Regions from separate parts of the Homo sapiens genome. Here region 1 is linked to region 2. The links come from fine-mapping of genetic effects on gene expression. Tissue or cell type: whole blood. Region 2 holds a variant in brackets; the other region holds the start of a gene. All regions are shown on one strand. Distances are from middle to middle.

Region 1 (8,106 bases), 170 kb after region 2:
CCTTCACAGAAGTATCCAGAATAATGCTTGATCAACTATCTGGGCACTGTGGCACAGCCAAGTTGACACATGAAGTTAACCATCACAAAAACTATGCTTGAGAAAGTTTCCTGCCATGCTGAGGTCACACAGCAGTGAGAGGCAGGGCTGGGATTTAACCAAGGTCTTTGGTTCAAACACTTGCTATAGTCCACAATAGTAAATCAGAGAAAGGTATATGTTATTTGCGGAGAGTCACATATTGATTAGATGACATATTCATGGGGCCTTCATTTATTCTTCAGAAAGTCTTTATGGAGTGCTATTGTGGTCCATGCTGTACTAGACTAGGATCTCTACCCCTGGAGAGTGAGCAAGTGACTTTTGTGAAGCCTGCTTCTTATCATGATAGGCTGGGCCTTGGAAGTATATAGTGAGCTTTGGAAGCCAGGTCAACCATAATGTGCTATTTGAGAATCTTTCATCAAGCAGGTACAATTTTCCAGATGAGTAGTGTGCTACAGAGGGCCTCACTGTATGTTCCGGGAACATTCCTAGAATATGCAGGTGAAGAAGGATGAAACCCCTTTCTTGGGAATCTTGAGAATAGGAGAGACTCCCACATTAGGACCCTGTGAGTGATAGGGCTGGGGGTAGGGAGTGAATCAGATGATCTTCGAGTGGGCCCTACTACTTCATGGACTCTTCAGGGCTTGCCAACCTCAAAAACAGCTCCTCAGCACTGACAGCCACGTATTTTATGAATTTCACTTGCTCCTCATCCCAATAGAACCCAATTAAGAATGCTTGGGGGCCAGGCGCAATGGCTCACACCTGTAATCCCAGCGCTTCGGCCTCTCGAGTTGAGAGAATTGCTTGAGACCAGGAATTTGAGATTAGCTTGGGAAACATAGCAAGACCACATCGCTACAAAAAAAAAAAAAAAAAAAAAAAAAAAAAAGGTTAGCAGGGCCTAGTGGCATGCACCTGTAGTCCCAGCTACTGGGAAGGCTGAGGTGGGAAAATCCCTTGAGCCCAGGAGTTCGAAGCTGTAGTGAGCTATCATCGTGCCACTGCACTCCAGCCTAGGTGACAGAGAGAGACCCTGCCTCCAAAACACTTGGGCAAGGATGGAGAGACTCCCCTCTCCCAGACCTAGAATGCTTGCTCCTCAGCCTCACTTCCCCTGTTTCTGTCCTCATGATGTCCCCAACCTGCCACCTCTGAGTCTCTGGCCCTATCTTTTTTTGTGTTTTTATTTATTTATTTATTTATTTATTTATTTATTTATTTATTTATTTTTTTGAGACGGAGTCTCGCTCTGTCGCCCAGGCTGGAGTGCAGTGGCGCAATCTCGGCTCACTGCAAGCTCCGCCTCCTAGGTTCACGCCATTCTCCTGCCTCAGCCTCCGAAGTAGCTGGGACTACAGGCGCCCACCACCACGCCTGGCTAATTTTTTGTATTTTTTAGTGGAGACGGGGTTTAACCGTGTTAGCCAGGATGGTCTCGATCTCCTGACCTCGTGGTCCGCCCGCCTCGGTCTCCCAAAGTGCTGGGAATACAGGCGTGAGCCACCGCGCCTGGCCAAATCTGATCTTCTCTTAAAGAGAGTTTGTGGAAGGCATCCTCTGTCTTCTGTATTACAATCTCACTGGTCAGAACTTGGTCTCATAGCAATTGTGAGCTACCAGGGAGTCTGGGATGGTGAATATTGTAGATTTCTAACTTCTTTAGTTGAGAAAGGCAAGGGAGAATGGGTTTGTCAATGGCTTCTGGAAACCTATTTGCAGGGTCTGCTGAAGAACAGAGCTCACCTTGCCAGTGGAGCCTTGATATGAGAGAGGGAATGGAAGGAGGTAAAAGTGGGGTATTATGCCAGGGAGAGCAATCCCACAGTGACCAAACAGCAGCTCCCTGCTGCAGGGCCCTCGGTGGCTTGGGTCAAAACAGCGTGGCCTCTACCGAGAGGCCCAGCCCTAAGACAGCTCCTTCTGGCAATCAGCTCTAACCAGCTGCTGCCAAAGAGGTAAACACATTCCAAGTCCTTGAGTCCCTGCTGCACTGTAACTGTGGTTAAAACACAACCCCGCCTCTACCAGTTTGGGCTAATGGAAAGTTCACTATAGTTGTGTTTTAATGATGATTTGCAATTATCCGTGCCCCCTCCCATTCATGGTGAGATGAATACCTAAACACTTATGTTGTCTAACCATATAAGTATTTTGCATCTCACGTGTATCATTTTAAGTTCATTTCATTCTCCAATCCTTGGGAACCATGAAGGATAACACATTACATTCTCTTTTTTTTTTTTTTTTCCTCTGGAAGATCATGCATTACATTCTCTTTTTTTCTCTGGAAGGGTGGCCCTTAAACCAAGCCATTTCCCTAAGCCCCTTTGGTGAGGTGGAGAAACAGACAACCACTAACACAGAACAACCACTGAACACCCAGAAAACTGTATACAGGTCATCACCCAGTGGGGGCACCATTTGCTTGCAGAGGGAGCTGGGGAAAATAGGAAACAGAGAAGATCAAATACTCCCCGTGAGGGTGTTGCCAATCCCAGAGAGGACAATTGCTCTTGACCAAAGCAATCTCTAGTTCAGTCAAGGAGACAGACCACAATCACATTTAAAAAAAAAAGAAAAAAAAAAACTAAAAGGAAATTTTAAAAGTATGAATAAGAGCTATTGTAAACTGCTCAAACTATGCATACAAGCAATGAAGTAAGATGAATTGACTGGCACTGAATTGGAAAAGCTATACAGAGGCAGGGAGTGTGGAACATAATTTAATAAAAATAAACTTAAAAAAATATATATACACTCCCAAAAAAGAAATGGAAAAGTTGTTAGGGCGTGGACCAGGACTCCTAATTAGCTGTTCTGTTGTGCCTGATTTCGCTCCTGTCTTGCCCAGCACCCCTTGGGACACACTGTCCAGTGCAGGGACACTTTGGGGAGGGACAGGGGATTCCTTGGCACCGGGACCTTCACCTCCGAGCCGGCCTCAGACCAGGCCATTTGCCCGTAGCCCAGAGGAGGAGCCGGGGAGAAACCCGCTGCCCAGGTGGCCACTTTTGCCTCTTTGACCCTTCCATGTTTCCAAAACAGAAGGGGCCCTGAGAACGCTCCCTGCCAAAGTGGGGAACAGCTACCCTCATTGTACGCCTCGCCCTGCCGGTGGCGCTCTCCCCCCGCCTGCGTTCGGTCTGAAAGTGTGAAAATTACAAATCCCAAGAAACTGCAATCAGAAGTCTACCTAGGGAAAATTCAGAGTAACCTTGCCATAAATATCCCGCTCCAAGACGCCTGACGTCAGAGCGGGGCGGGCGGACGGGCGCGAGGCCGGGCCTGGAGGGGCGGCAGCCGCGGCTTCCCGGGGATAGCGCGGAGCACGCAGCAGCGAGCGGAGCGCGGGCGGCGGCGCCGTACCTCGGGCTGCGGGAGCGCGGGCGCCCTGGGGTCCTCGGAGTAAGTGCGGCCGGCCCTGGCGCTCCCCGTCTTGGGGCCCGGGCCGCGGGGAGCCCTCTCCGCTGGGCTCCCACACTTCTCTCCCTCTGCTTTCTTTAGCATGCCCCGCGGGGCTTGGGGAGGCAGCAGCTCCGCAGGCTGGCGGTTTTGTTTCTCCAAAGTGTTTGCAGGAGCCGCCGACCCCGGAGTGGGCTCCCAGGGCCTGTGTGTGTGTGAGTTGTGTGTGTGTATGAGTGTGATTGCGTGTGTCTGTACTGGCACATCTGGACATAGGAAATGTCTTTGGAAAACTTTTTAAAAATGTTTTTTGCGGCTTTGAAACCTGACCCCTGGTTGTCACAAGTGGACAAACACAGAAGATACCCCGCAAAACTGACAACTTTTTGGTGGTGGCTTTTCCGGGTTCGGCTTGAACCTTCACTTGGCTGGGCTGAAGTCTTCACAAGCCCCCAGCTCCCACTTGCAGGCCTGGCCTCTGGCCAGTGGGCAGGGCAGCCGTAAGGTTCTTGTTCTCAGTGGCAGTGGGACCCTGGGCGGGGGAAGGAGCATCTCAGGAAAGGGGTCCCCGGACTCTGGGGCTCTCAGCACCTGCGGTCGCAAACCAACCTCATGCCCTGACTTTACCAGGCGTCGGGACTCTGACTTAACCGGGGAATGAGGGACTTGGTCTGGCGGCAGGTAATTTTGTGAAGAGGATGAGAAGGAAGAGGGGGAGGTGGTGGTGATGGCCAGGACGCTGTGGCCCTGTGTCCAGCCGTAGCTTGGGAGTGGGATGGTTGGTTCTGCCACATGGCCACGGTGAGGTACGTGCCAGGTTCTCCAGGAGTGCCGCGTGTGGTGCCCCAAACAAGATGCAAGCTCCTAACATAAAGAGACGTGTCTGAGCTGTGGGGTGGAGGAAGGGGGGCGGTGGGGGAGAGGGAGATTTTTATCAAAATTGAACACAGATTGCTGAGATCTGGGCTTGATTTAACTCTTCTCTCTCTGCCTCGGCCACTTCTCCACAGTTTTGGAGTGGATTTGGAACGTTTCTCGGAGGGTTAGAGGAAAATCACACCTCTCCGGAAAAGAGTCCCCATAGGTTTTCCCTTGATGCCCACGTGGGAATGAAAGCAGCTTCCCATCTTTAAAAAGTTCAAAGTCTTGTGTTTTCCCCCTTCTGAGTTTGGTGTTAGTTTCCTGAGTTTCTTTGCAAAGCCAGCTGAAGCGGGGGATGGATTTTCCCTAGGGCCTAGGGCGGAAAGTGTGCTCCACGGAGAGTAGGGGAAAAAAGCAGCAGTGAGGCTGTATCGATCCATCATCCCTGAGTAGCACAGTGCCAGGCACTGCCTGTCAATAGCTGGGTTCCACAAACGAGTGACCACAGACAGACTGAATTTTCAGCTTTGAGCTAGCCAGGTCTCTGGTTTTGTATTTTGCAGTAGAGCCAACCTACAATGTCTGGGTGGGAGGAAGATTACTGGACTCTCCCTCTGTCCTAGAAAAATGAGAAAATGAAGGGACAGGGAGGAAATCTGGATGTAAAAACAGACCCACAGGAAGTTAAGATTCAGGAAGGATTTTAGAAATTATATAAATTGAACCCCAGGGAAGCTCCATAAAAGATGGAGCAGGCAGCAATGTCAGAAACAGACTCATTTAACTTCAGGAGTACGTTGTCAACTGAAGTGTAATGAAGGAGGAGGAAATCATCCCATAGGCAATGTAAACAAGGGTGCATGTAAACAGGAGTGACTGGTCCCCATGAGATGCACATGCCTATGTGTTTTTACACATACATGACTGTGTGGTGATGGCCATGGCCTTAGACATGGGAGGATAAATGGTCTATTTCTTCATCTGTGCTGGGAACTCCATCTAACCCCCATTTCTTCCTTTATGCAAACAACTGTGCTATTATTGTCTTGCTCCCTGGTAGTTGCAAACTCTGGCTCCTAACTCCCAGCTGAGTTTTCAGAGCTTTTCCTCCAGCGCCTCGGATGCTGAGGGAATACTCGTGCCCCCATCAGGACAAAAAGAGGAGAGAACATTCTCCTGGGCATTAGAACTTAGAGAGTCAGGGGCTCAAGAAGGCGGAGGCTGTGCAGGCAAGACCAATAGGAAGGCCTGTAAATGATTTTGTTTTTGGTGAGCGTGGAGGAAGTTGAAATACTACTGCTTGCTGTGAGAACATGTTCTCTCCCCAGTCTTCTTTCCCGACTGTCTCCAAAGTTTTTGATGCAAAACAGATTAAACTCCCCATTACTAAAGAGCCTTGGATCCAGGTGTAAAGAATGAAGATAAAGGGTAAGTACAGGCAGTAGAGAAAGCATAGAGATAATGAAAGATGAGGCTTTCTTATTTGATTTTACTAGAGCCAATGGAAGTAACAAGTTTAAATGTTCTCATTCATTTCCATTATTTAAACATAGAAGACTACCCAGGGACAGAAGGGACCCCTCGGAACAGGATTCCCAGAAATACTCTTATCCCAGCATACAACTCCTCAGGGACAGGTGAGGGGCAAGAACTGGGTTTTCAACTCTTTCTACATGTGGGGTTTCTGGGAGTGCTGCATGTGGGATCAGTGGAGTCCTGATGCTTCTGGGCTTGTACTAGGAGACATTTCACTATGGCCGGGATGAATTCCCAGGCCATGGATGCCTAGGCTGACATTGAAGCCTTCTCATGGCTCATTCTATCAGTTCAATCTTCTGGCCAGCTCTTTGGTCATCTTTGAGATTAGATTAAGTAGATGGGATGCATTCCAAGACATCCTTGAAGGTCCAGAGGGCAAACACAGCTGGCAGAAAGAACAAGTTGAAGGATATCCTTGGCTTTGATAGCGGATGACCCTCTAGATCTCAACAGCCAGAGACTCTGTCAAGGATCCTGTGTCATTCAGCCCTAGACTTCAGAGGCAGCCCGACAACAATGGAAAGAGTGCAGATTTCTGATCAGCTGCCTGGAGAGAGAGAACTGTGACCTAAATACGAATTAGTAACCTGGGCTACATGACTTATTCCTTCTGAGCTTCAGCTTCCTCATCTGTAAAATAAGGATAGTATTTCCCTCCCCAGGTCATTATGAAAACATTTATGCACAAGAACTAAGAACAGAGCTCAGAATGTTATAAGACCCTTCATAAAGGGAGTGCTGTATTTTTATTTTTCAGTTTTTCAGCCATCACAAGCCAGTATTGCTTGGAAAGAACCTCTCCCCAAATCTAGCTACATATTTTCCATGATTGAAGGCTAGTGGGTGGAGTTTCTAGGGCTCTGATCATCCTTACTTCCTTCCTCTAGAAAAGGTGACCAATGAAGATATTCCATGAGCATCCCTGGTCCATTATCCTGAAGTGTGGGAGAAGAAACCAGGGATCCTGGATGTCTGGCCTAGAAATCACTCTTGTGTTTGTGCTCTTTAGGGAGGGAGAAGGACAGAAGAGCAGGTTGTATAAGTATGGTGGGGAGGGGAAAGGTAGGGAGGTGGGGGTAGGGCAGGAGGGTCAAGGACCAATTGGATCTTGAAGGACAAGCCTGAGTCAGAGAGCGGGTAGGCAGCCACTCCTTGTCAAGGGTGCTCAGGTCAGAGTAATGGGGGAATCTGATGGGTTGTAAAGAATGAAAGCTTTAGTCATTGCAAACATCTCCAGTGGGTATGGGGTGGGAGGCTGCCCCCTGAACCCTGATTGATACATTATCCAAGGGAGTGACTACTCCAAAGGAACAAAGGAACATCTGATGTTAGAGAGCAGCTGCAGGTCCTCTTGGCCCATCTCAAAGCTTGTAAGTTATCCTTCAAGTTGACATTTAAGATTTTGAAGATCACATTTGTTTTTGTTTTGTTCAAGCTCTCTCTTTAACCATGGCCTGGGATGACTTTTAAGCTTTTAAGAGGCTCAACCAGTGGTCAACTTCTCTTGAGATGGCCCAGAGCGGGGGTCAGTGAATTCCTCACTCTTGGCAGCATCTATTTCTCCAACTCTCTCCACATTTTTTGGTTTGTTTTTTGTTTCATTATGAGGTTCTAAAACTGCACAGTCAAGATGCTGTGGGGGGAGGAAGTAAGTGCCTGTTCTTGGAACCTGTGCAGCGTTATGCTAGCACTGGCCAAGACTTATCAGACTATGGTTATTAATAGGTGTTATGGGTTTCTTTCTGGGGTCCCCCTCCAAAAAAAAAAAAAAAAAAAAAACCTGTAAAAAAAAAATGAACTTTAGGCAGTTTGATGTCTCTTTCAATCCTGGCCAAAGAGGAGCTGAATTATTTGTGGTACATCCTATGGTTCCAAGGAAGAGCTTTAGAATCAAGCAGACAGAGATTTGAGTTCTGGCACCACCAGGTCACAAGCTTGCTAACCTCTCTGAGTCTTCTTTATCTGTTAAATGAGAACAATAACTATTCTCATTCCCCAGGGTTGTTCTGAAAATGAAATGGAATGATATAAGGGAAGAAGCTAGCAAACTGCTCAGTAAAATGTTAATGCCATTCCCCTCTCCAGTTCTAAGTCCGTGAAAATACATGGGTTTAGACATTTGTCCACAGGTCAAAGTAAATAAGCCACTTATTCAAGGATTAACAACTGTGCTTGGAGGTCAGATATCTCAGCCTGGAGATGGAGACCCTTTATACAAAAGTGGGGCACAGAACAGTGCTCCCCATGCCAAGC
Region 2 (8,106 bases):
TCATGCCTTTGCTCATAGAAGCCCAGCCTGAGCCATGCCCTGGGCACTACGTCTATTGCCTGGGAGAGGTAGTTGCAGAATGAGAGTGTTTTAAATTCTACTGCCAGTGAAATGGTTTTTCAAAGTTGAAGGAAATAAGGACCATTACAAAAAGTTTCTCATCAAGTTCCTTCCTTTCCTGGCCCTTTCTTTCCCTCTGTCCCTCACAAATCAATAGCTATTTCCTGAATCCTTAATCTACCACTTGGTTCTGACTGTAATTTTCATGGGCTTGAAAGAGGGCTTTATTAGAGTTTCTTAAATAAACATTCTAATTCCAAGATGGAAACCCCCAAACTATTTATTTGATTTTTTTTAACAGGCCTGTGAACAGCTTTCCCTACAAAATGTTTCTAAAATATTTAGATTTCAAGAAAAGTCACTGATAGCCTTAACTTGGATACCTAAGTGGAAAAGTTCTGCTAAGTGTACTCAGCCTGCTTAATGATGGGGAAGAAGCAAGCTTTGTGTTTTCTCTGTAAACAGAGAATCTTTTCCATTTGGCTAAGTAGTTGGAATTTGTAGACTCTTTTTAACTGACTGAAGCACATATAAAGAGCAATAGGCAGGCTCTTGTTCTCAATAATGGAAGCTATCAATGAAAGAATCCTCCACCCCACACCCTACCTCCACATTTCAGTACCATCAACTTGCTGAAAAGGAACTTCCCAGCCATTACTGCAAGGAACATGGTTTCTAACGTTCATGTTATATATAAGTGTTGCCATGGTGATTTCTATTTTTTATCTATTTGCAAATGTCCCCTATGATGGTATAGGTCATGCACTATGCAATGGCGCCATGTCTGAGGGGGTGCTATTCACATCATGGGTTTGTATAGTTATCACGACAAATGTCTGTCATAAGGCAATGAAGAGCCTCCTAACAAAATCAGCATACTGCAACAATTTTCCAATAGATGGCAGAGGTGCCTTTTAATAAGTGACATAAAGGTGACTTGAGGTCATACAGACTAGAGGCCATTCCGTCTAGACACCCTGACCTAGAGCAATGTCAAGAGCAGGTGGGCCTCATGACAATGGGTGGGGGTGCACCAGGCTCTTCTAAATAACTAGATATGTTTCACATGTTGTAAACATAGTCCCAACACAAGTCACTTAAATAAAGAGAACATTCACTTGTTTGTCAGTTCTCAATATCCTTTTTGTTTCTCCCCAACACATTTTCTCAGAAGCTCTTTATGGTGAAGGTTTAGGGAAAAGCAGAGATGTAAAGTTTTAGGAAAAGTATGTAAGGTGACCCCTCCTTTCTGCATTTAAACAATTTCAAAGGTAGATTTTCTTAGATTGATTACAACTTTCTAAAAGGTTTCTTTGGTTATAAAATATAAATACTTGAAATATGTTTCTTGGGAAAGATTCATGAACCTGCAATATATTTTTGTGTTAGTGTTGACCTAGACAAAATGGGCTAAAAGCAATGGACGTTTTGTCCATTACTGAGATATTTCAAAAGCTCTTTCTAGTAGCTTGAAAACCGTATCTTTTCTTTGTAGTTTTATCTAACATCATATCTTTTCACTGACAATGAAGAATATAGCTGATCACATGACATTCGTAAACTAAAAATAAAATCCTAAGCCCCTCATCCAACTGAATGGACCCCCTATTGGCCACGGGGACCCCAGAAAACCTGACAAACTGAATTCCCAGCCATGATAGGAAAGAAGGTTGGACACGCTTCGTTATGCGCCCTCCCTTTTGGAGTTTCGGCACAACTGACTAGCATTAATGTTAAAACAGAGATCATAAGACTCACAGAACAAACTTTTTGTGGCAATAAGACACCAAATTATAAACAAGACCCAAGGCCATGCCAGACTAGTGTTAAGTCACACCCTACAAATCACAAAATCTAATTAAAAGGTTTTTAAAAATTAATCCAATATAATGTGGCTTGTTTTCCAACCTGACTGTGATGTAGCATCACAGCACAGATAACAGACGTCCCCAGTCTCAACTTAAGCATTCCTTTGTACTGACTTCAAGTCATTAGACAAAGCTTAACTCTTTCAACCAATTGCCAACCAAAGAATCCCTAAAACCCAACTCTGACTTCTAAGTCCCTCCTTTGAGACGGTCTACCTTTTCAAACTGAACCAATGTATGCCTTTCATCTGTTGATTTATGATTTTATAATTCCTGTCTTTCTGAAATGCACAAAACCAATCTGTAACCAGATTGCTCAAAATAAACCTCTTTTTATTTTATTCTTATTGGCTCAAAATAAATCTCTTTAAAATATTTTACAGAGTTTCCTTTTTCTGTTAACACGTTTTAGAAACTAAGTTAGTTAATATAATCTGCAACCTACAACACCAAGTTCTAACTTTTATAAAAGTGAAAACACTAACAAATAAAATACTTTATCAGAAGAAGTCCAAACTCAGCACTGCAAAATATTCTGAGTAATTCTTGTGATAAATTTTTCTTTTGCTATCCACATGAATTTCTTTTATTTCAAACTGGCAAATATCTCCTCTAAATATTATCATTTTTATTTCTAATTTACCTTTATTGCTAAATAATAATGTTAATAGACTTGGACTCTTGTAAGTCTGAATTCCCAAAGATCTTAACCAACCTCCTAAGGTTATCCTGCTACCATAAGCCTGCCATTTCAGAAGTGCTGGCAATCTGTAAATGATTTATTCCCTGTCTGAAGAGGAACAGAATTGAAATAACCAATGGATAAAGTCATTTAATGTAATGTAACCAACAGGGTTCAAGGATGCATAGTGACAATGAGGAACCAGCTGCACACTCTCCAGAAGTGTCTGCTGCTTACTGTGCTCGTATGCTTCAATATGCCATGAAAATGAACGTCACCAAAGGGACTCAGGACATAACTGGAAGCTGTTGGCCACTGCTATGGACATGTGAAGCCCAAACAAGAATGATCTATGATCAGCAAAGATAGAACCATACTAGGTGCAATTAATGTGTAGGAGAACCAACGCTTTCTCAGGGGTGATTGCACTCATTTATTTATTAGTCACTATAATTTAATCATTTCACTAAGATTGAGCATAAATACGAAACATTATGTTATTTCCATTGTCTTTTTTCAAAATAATACCCAAATATAATAAAGTTTTAGATTGCTAATAACTTGATAAGAATATCTTTCTGTATTATGTTAATCTAACCAAACTATTCCATGCCCTAACAATATCACTTCACAACCATCAATGGCGCCCAAATCTACTGTATTGAAACATGGTTTATCATACACTTATCTATTGCCCGCCAGACATCATCATTTGCATGCTTTTCCAAAAGTGAATATTTTAGATAATCAAAAAACTGTGCTTGTTACGCTAGTATTCCTTGCTAATTTCTAAAAACATTCAGCCATATCATGTTCCTTCTGATGCTCCAGGCTTACAAATAACCCACCACTTAATGAAATGTCTTGTTTGGCCTAATTCCATATAGTAATTATACAGCCGTGCACTAAAATTTGTTTTCTTTAGAGCTACCAACTTTTTTTCAAAGGAAGTTTTCTCCCATTTTTACTAATACTTGCTTTCTTATTCAGATTTTATAGTG[A/G]TAGTACCACAAATTATGTACTCAAGTTTTCCACATTTGGGAAACCTATAAGAATAGATACATCTAGAGGCAATGGATTTGTAATTCTGGAAAACCATAGCATTTCCTCTGCCAGGTAAATAGCTTTATACACCTCTTAGTTTATGATACTACATTTTAAAAGTTCTGAATTTATTTACTTTTATTTTCATTTTAACATTCAGTTTATTATTTTTCCAACTATAAGCATAATACATGCTTCTTGTGAAAAAGTATGAAAGTAGAAAGAACCAAGAAAGCAGAGCCTCATCACAAGGACAATGTGGTATGTTAATATATTGCCTTAATTTTCTTACACACACTTTGCAGATTTGTCATAAAATTATAAATGTATGCATGTTACTCTCTTTTGATCACCCCTTAACAACATTTTATTTATTTATTTATTTATTTATTTATTTATTTTGAGGCAGAGTCTTCCACTGTTGCCCAGGCTGAAGTGCAGTGGCACGATCTTGGCTCACTGCAACCTCCACCTCCTGGGTTCAAGCGATTCTCCTGCCTCAGTCTCCCAAGTAGCTGAGATTACAGGTGCTCACCATTGCACCCAGCTAATTTTTATATTTTTAGTAGAGACAGGGTTTTGCCATGTTAGCCAGGCTGGTCTTGAACTCCTGACCTTAGGTGATTTGCCCACCCTGGCCGCTCAAAGTGCTGGGATTACAGGTGTGAGCCACCGCACCCAGCCTACAACATTTTTTTAATAGTTACACAATATTTTAGGGTTAGGATGTATTAATGAAATATTTTAACCATTCCTTTATGAGAATTTGTTGTTTCCAATTTAAAGCTGTTTTAAATAACACCGTAAGATAGACACACACACACACACACACACACACACACACACACGTACACATATATCTTTAACTGTATCAATATATATCTGTTCCTGAAGCTTTTGAAATAATTCATATTTTCTCCTTAGGGATGATTTCTGGGGGTGACGTTACAAGATCAAAAGTTATGAACAGCTTTAAGGCTCTCATCATACCTGGGAAGCCTATAGCACCCTCTGTGGAATGGACAAACCTGGGCTGAGATCCTGGCCTCCCGCCATGTGCTAGCAGTAAGTCTTTGGCATCTTAGGAACTCTCGTTGCATCTCTGTCTCCTCTATAAACTGAGGACAATATCACCTCTACAATGGACTGTTGAGAAAAAAATCATGTATTTAAGTTCCTTGTTCATCGCTGTGCCCCAGGCCTAAAAGGACACCTGTTTATGTTTGATGCACAATAATACATTGGATGAATGAACAAATGTGCTTAGTAGTGTATGTTGCACATTAAAATCCAATAAATAGCAACTTCCTTGAAGGTAGGCAGTAAAATGCTTTCCAAAAATGTTATACTGATTTACATTCCTACTGTATGAGAGGGACTGTTTCACTATTATTTTAATAACACTGAACATTAGTTTTTAAATTTTTGCTAATATTTTAGGTTAAAATGTTCTGTTTAATTTACATTCTTTGAATGGTTAATGAAATTGAACCTATTTCAGCCAGGCGTGGTGGCTCATGCCTGTAATCCAAGCTCTTTGGGAAGCCGAGGTGGGTGGATCACCTGAGGTCAGGAGTTCAAGACCAGCCTGGCCAACATGGTGAAACCCCATCTCTATTAAAAATTCCAAAAATTAGACGGGTGGGGCGGCGGGCACCTGTAATCCCAGCTACTCAGGAGGCTGAGGCAGGAGAATGGCTTGAACCCAGAAGGCGGAGGTTGCAGTGAGCCAAGATCACACCACTGCACTCCAGCCTGGGCAACAAAAGCGAAAATCCAGCTCAAAAAAAAAAAAAGAAACAAAGAAATTGAACCTATTTCCAACTGTTTTTTAACCGTTATATTGTTTTGTCTTTTGTCTACTTATTTGGGGTACTTAAATGTATGAGCTCTTTATATATAAAATATTTTGTTTCTTATATTTATTAGGCAAATTTTATATGTGCTTGCTTTTTAACTTTGATGTATTAGAAATTTTGTTTGTTTTAACACATAAAAGTTTAAATTCTTATAATGTATCAATCTTTTCTTTTATTTCTGTACTTTTTAAGCTTAAAGTCCTTCCAAATCAACAGAGTATATAAAAATTGACTTTTCTTGTACTCTTTTGGGATATGAGTAGATGGAATGAAATAAGGGCTCTAAATGGATTTTTCCTCTCCATCAATGATTGTGTGGCTCATGATGCAGTTTGCCTGTATGGGATCTGTCCTCCCCTTCTCCCTAACTATTAGGCTTTGATTTTGTTCAGGGAATTATTTAAAGACACTAGACTTTCCCAGATTCTCTTGCAACTAAGGCTGCCCATATCACAAAATTCTGGTCAGTGACAAATAAGTGAAAGTCATTGGATGGAGCTTCCTGGACATGAGCAGCCTCAGGCAGCAGGTGCCTGTTTCCTTCCAGAAATGTGCACGAGATGCTGGAGGTGAGGCAGCCATTTTGCATGATGACTAAAGCTGCCCACTAAGAATGGCTGTGCAGAATGATGGAAGGAAGCCCTGAAGGCATCCTGGAGCTTCCACAGCAGCCCTCCCTGCCTATTTTTAGAATCTTTAAGGTGCGGTGGTGTGGGAGAGGTGAGGCTTGGGGTGTGGCAAGGAACAGACTATTTGGTTAAGCCATTGGAAGTTAGGCTGCTATTACCTGCAGTTGTTAATTTACTAACACAAATGTCCAATACTGTTGACTGAAGAATTCTTCCCTCTACCTACATTAAATGATTACATTGTATAGAATATGATTCTGGTTTAATCTGTTTGCTTTTCTTCATCTGTTTAATTTAGAAGTAGTATAACATGATTTCATTATTAGAACTTTTACTTAATTTGAATAGATAGTGTCATTAATTTTCTCTCACTTCTCTACTTTTTGAAACTTTTGTTCTTCTTGGTTGTCTATCCTTTCAGATAAACTTTGGAATCATATATATGTTTTTTAAAGCCTCTGTGATTTTGTTTGGAATTTCATTGAACCTACTCATTAATATGAGAACACCCCTTTAAGGTATTCCTATTGCACACTCAGAAACAGATTAATAACTATCTATTTTCAAGTCTTCTTTTACTTTCACAGAAAAATGTACTATCTTGTTCATAAAGTTCTCGAACATTTCCTGAGCATTTTACCTTCTTTTGCTATTGTAAAAGAGATCTATTTAGCCATTATTTTTCTAAATGGATTATTCCTAGGGCTTGCTTCTTAGATCGAGTTAGGTAAATACTAATAGATAATAGCTGGCCAGTTGGTCTGAATACCATCAGTCTTATCTCTGTTTCATAATAACTAACTTTCGTTTTGTAGAACATCTTCAACTACCTTAGAATTCAATGTAAAAACACAAAGCCAATTACAATTAACTGTGGAATCACACATAGGCTAACTGCTACGGAAGTTCCAGAGCAGGGAGATTAATATACTGCTTGTGACCTTCATCACCTGGCCCAGATAACTCCTCCAGCCATCTGACGTAATCTCTTCACTTCCCTCACCTAGACTTCATTCTAAAGGCTCTTCCCATGTGTCCCCTCTCTCAGGCCAGCTCAGCTCTGCTCCCACCTCAGCAGCACTGTCAGCTCTTGGCTCAGTCAGAACTTGCCATACGTCAGTAAAATTAGGAAACCATTGAGGGTTATGGGAGCAGAGACGGGGGTGTTAAAAGGGGCCTGAGTAGGTAGTGACAGGAAACAACTGGCTGAAGTGGGCTCCTTTTATGAGATGACTGCAGCTCTAAATCATGTGTATGCTCTTTTCACATGTACATACATTATTAGTGGGATAGTCGAGTGTGGTGCAGAAGCCTCTTCAGGTGTTTCATGTGTATACCCCATTTTCCAACTAAATGGTAAGTTAATTGAAGAGACGAATACAGATTAAATTCTTTATAATGCACTCAAAAGAGCTAATTGAGATTCTTGCAATATGGTAAATTGTTGGTATACATGGTATTAACACTCTCAAAAGGTTGTAATAATTTTTTTCTCTATCAGTTGAGCTATAATAGACGTGTTTCTAAACCCTGTACATTTTTCTAAAGAACAGAATAAAGTGATCAAGCAAGCTTAGAATCATTCAAAGCTGTTTGAAATAATCCTAAGGTTTTGCTTCATATACTGAAAATTGAGAATGGATTCTGAAAATGATGTACTATCAGAATAAATCAATTCATAATGCAATCGTGGAGACTAACAGGACAATATGTCAAAGCAAGACAAATCCATACTAATACACAGTTTAGAATGTGTATTTCACCTCTTAATGGCTGAAGAAAGTGTATGCATTTGTTCATACACAAAGCACAAGGAAAATGGAATAGATTGAGGTGACAGTGTTTTTCCTGTCATTAATTCATGTCACTAAAAGCTCTAAATATCACAGATATATTTCTATATTCCAGATATACGAGTGAAAACACTGAAACTCTTTCTTCCCATCCTTCCACGCATCACTTAT

Evidence for each region. PIP is the estimated chance that this variant, and not a neighbour inherited with it, causes the effect.
Region 1: DAAM2 starts here. The variant in region 2 is fine-mapped to the expression of DAAM2 in whole blood (INTERVAL, PIP above 0.99).

The regions. Positions count from the first base shown.
Region 1 is chr6:39,789,010-39,797,115 of GRCh38, forward strand. DAAM2 (dishevelled associated activator of morphogenesis 2) reads left to right here and starts at 3,367. Exons shown (of 25, transcript NM_001201427.2): 1 at 3,367-3,456.
Region 2 is chr6:39,616,731-39,624,836 of GRCh38, forward strand. The region is part of intron 5 of KIF6 (kinesin family member 6); the gene reads right to left. It also overlaps the pseudogene RNU1-54P. Among named protein-coding and RNA genes, the nearest start is that of KIF6, 100 kb to the right of the region's middle. The variant A/G (reference allele first, on the strand shown) is at 3,612.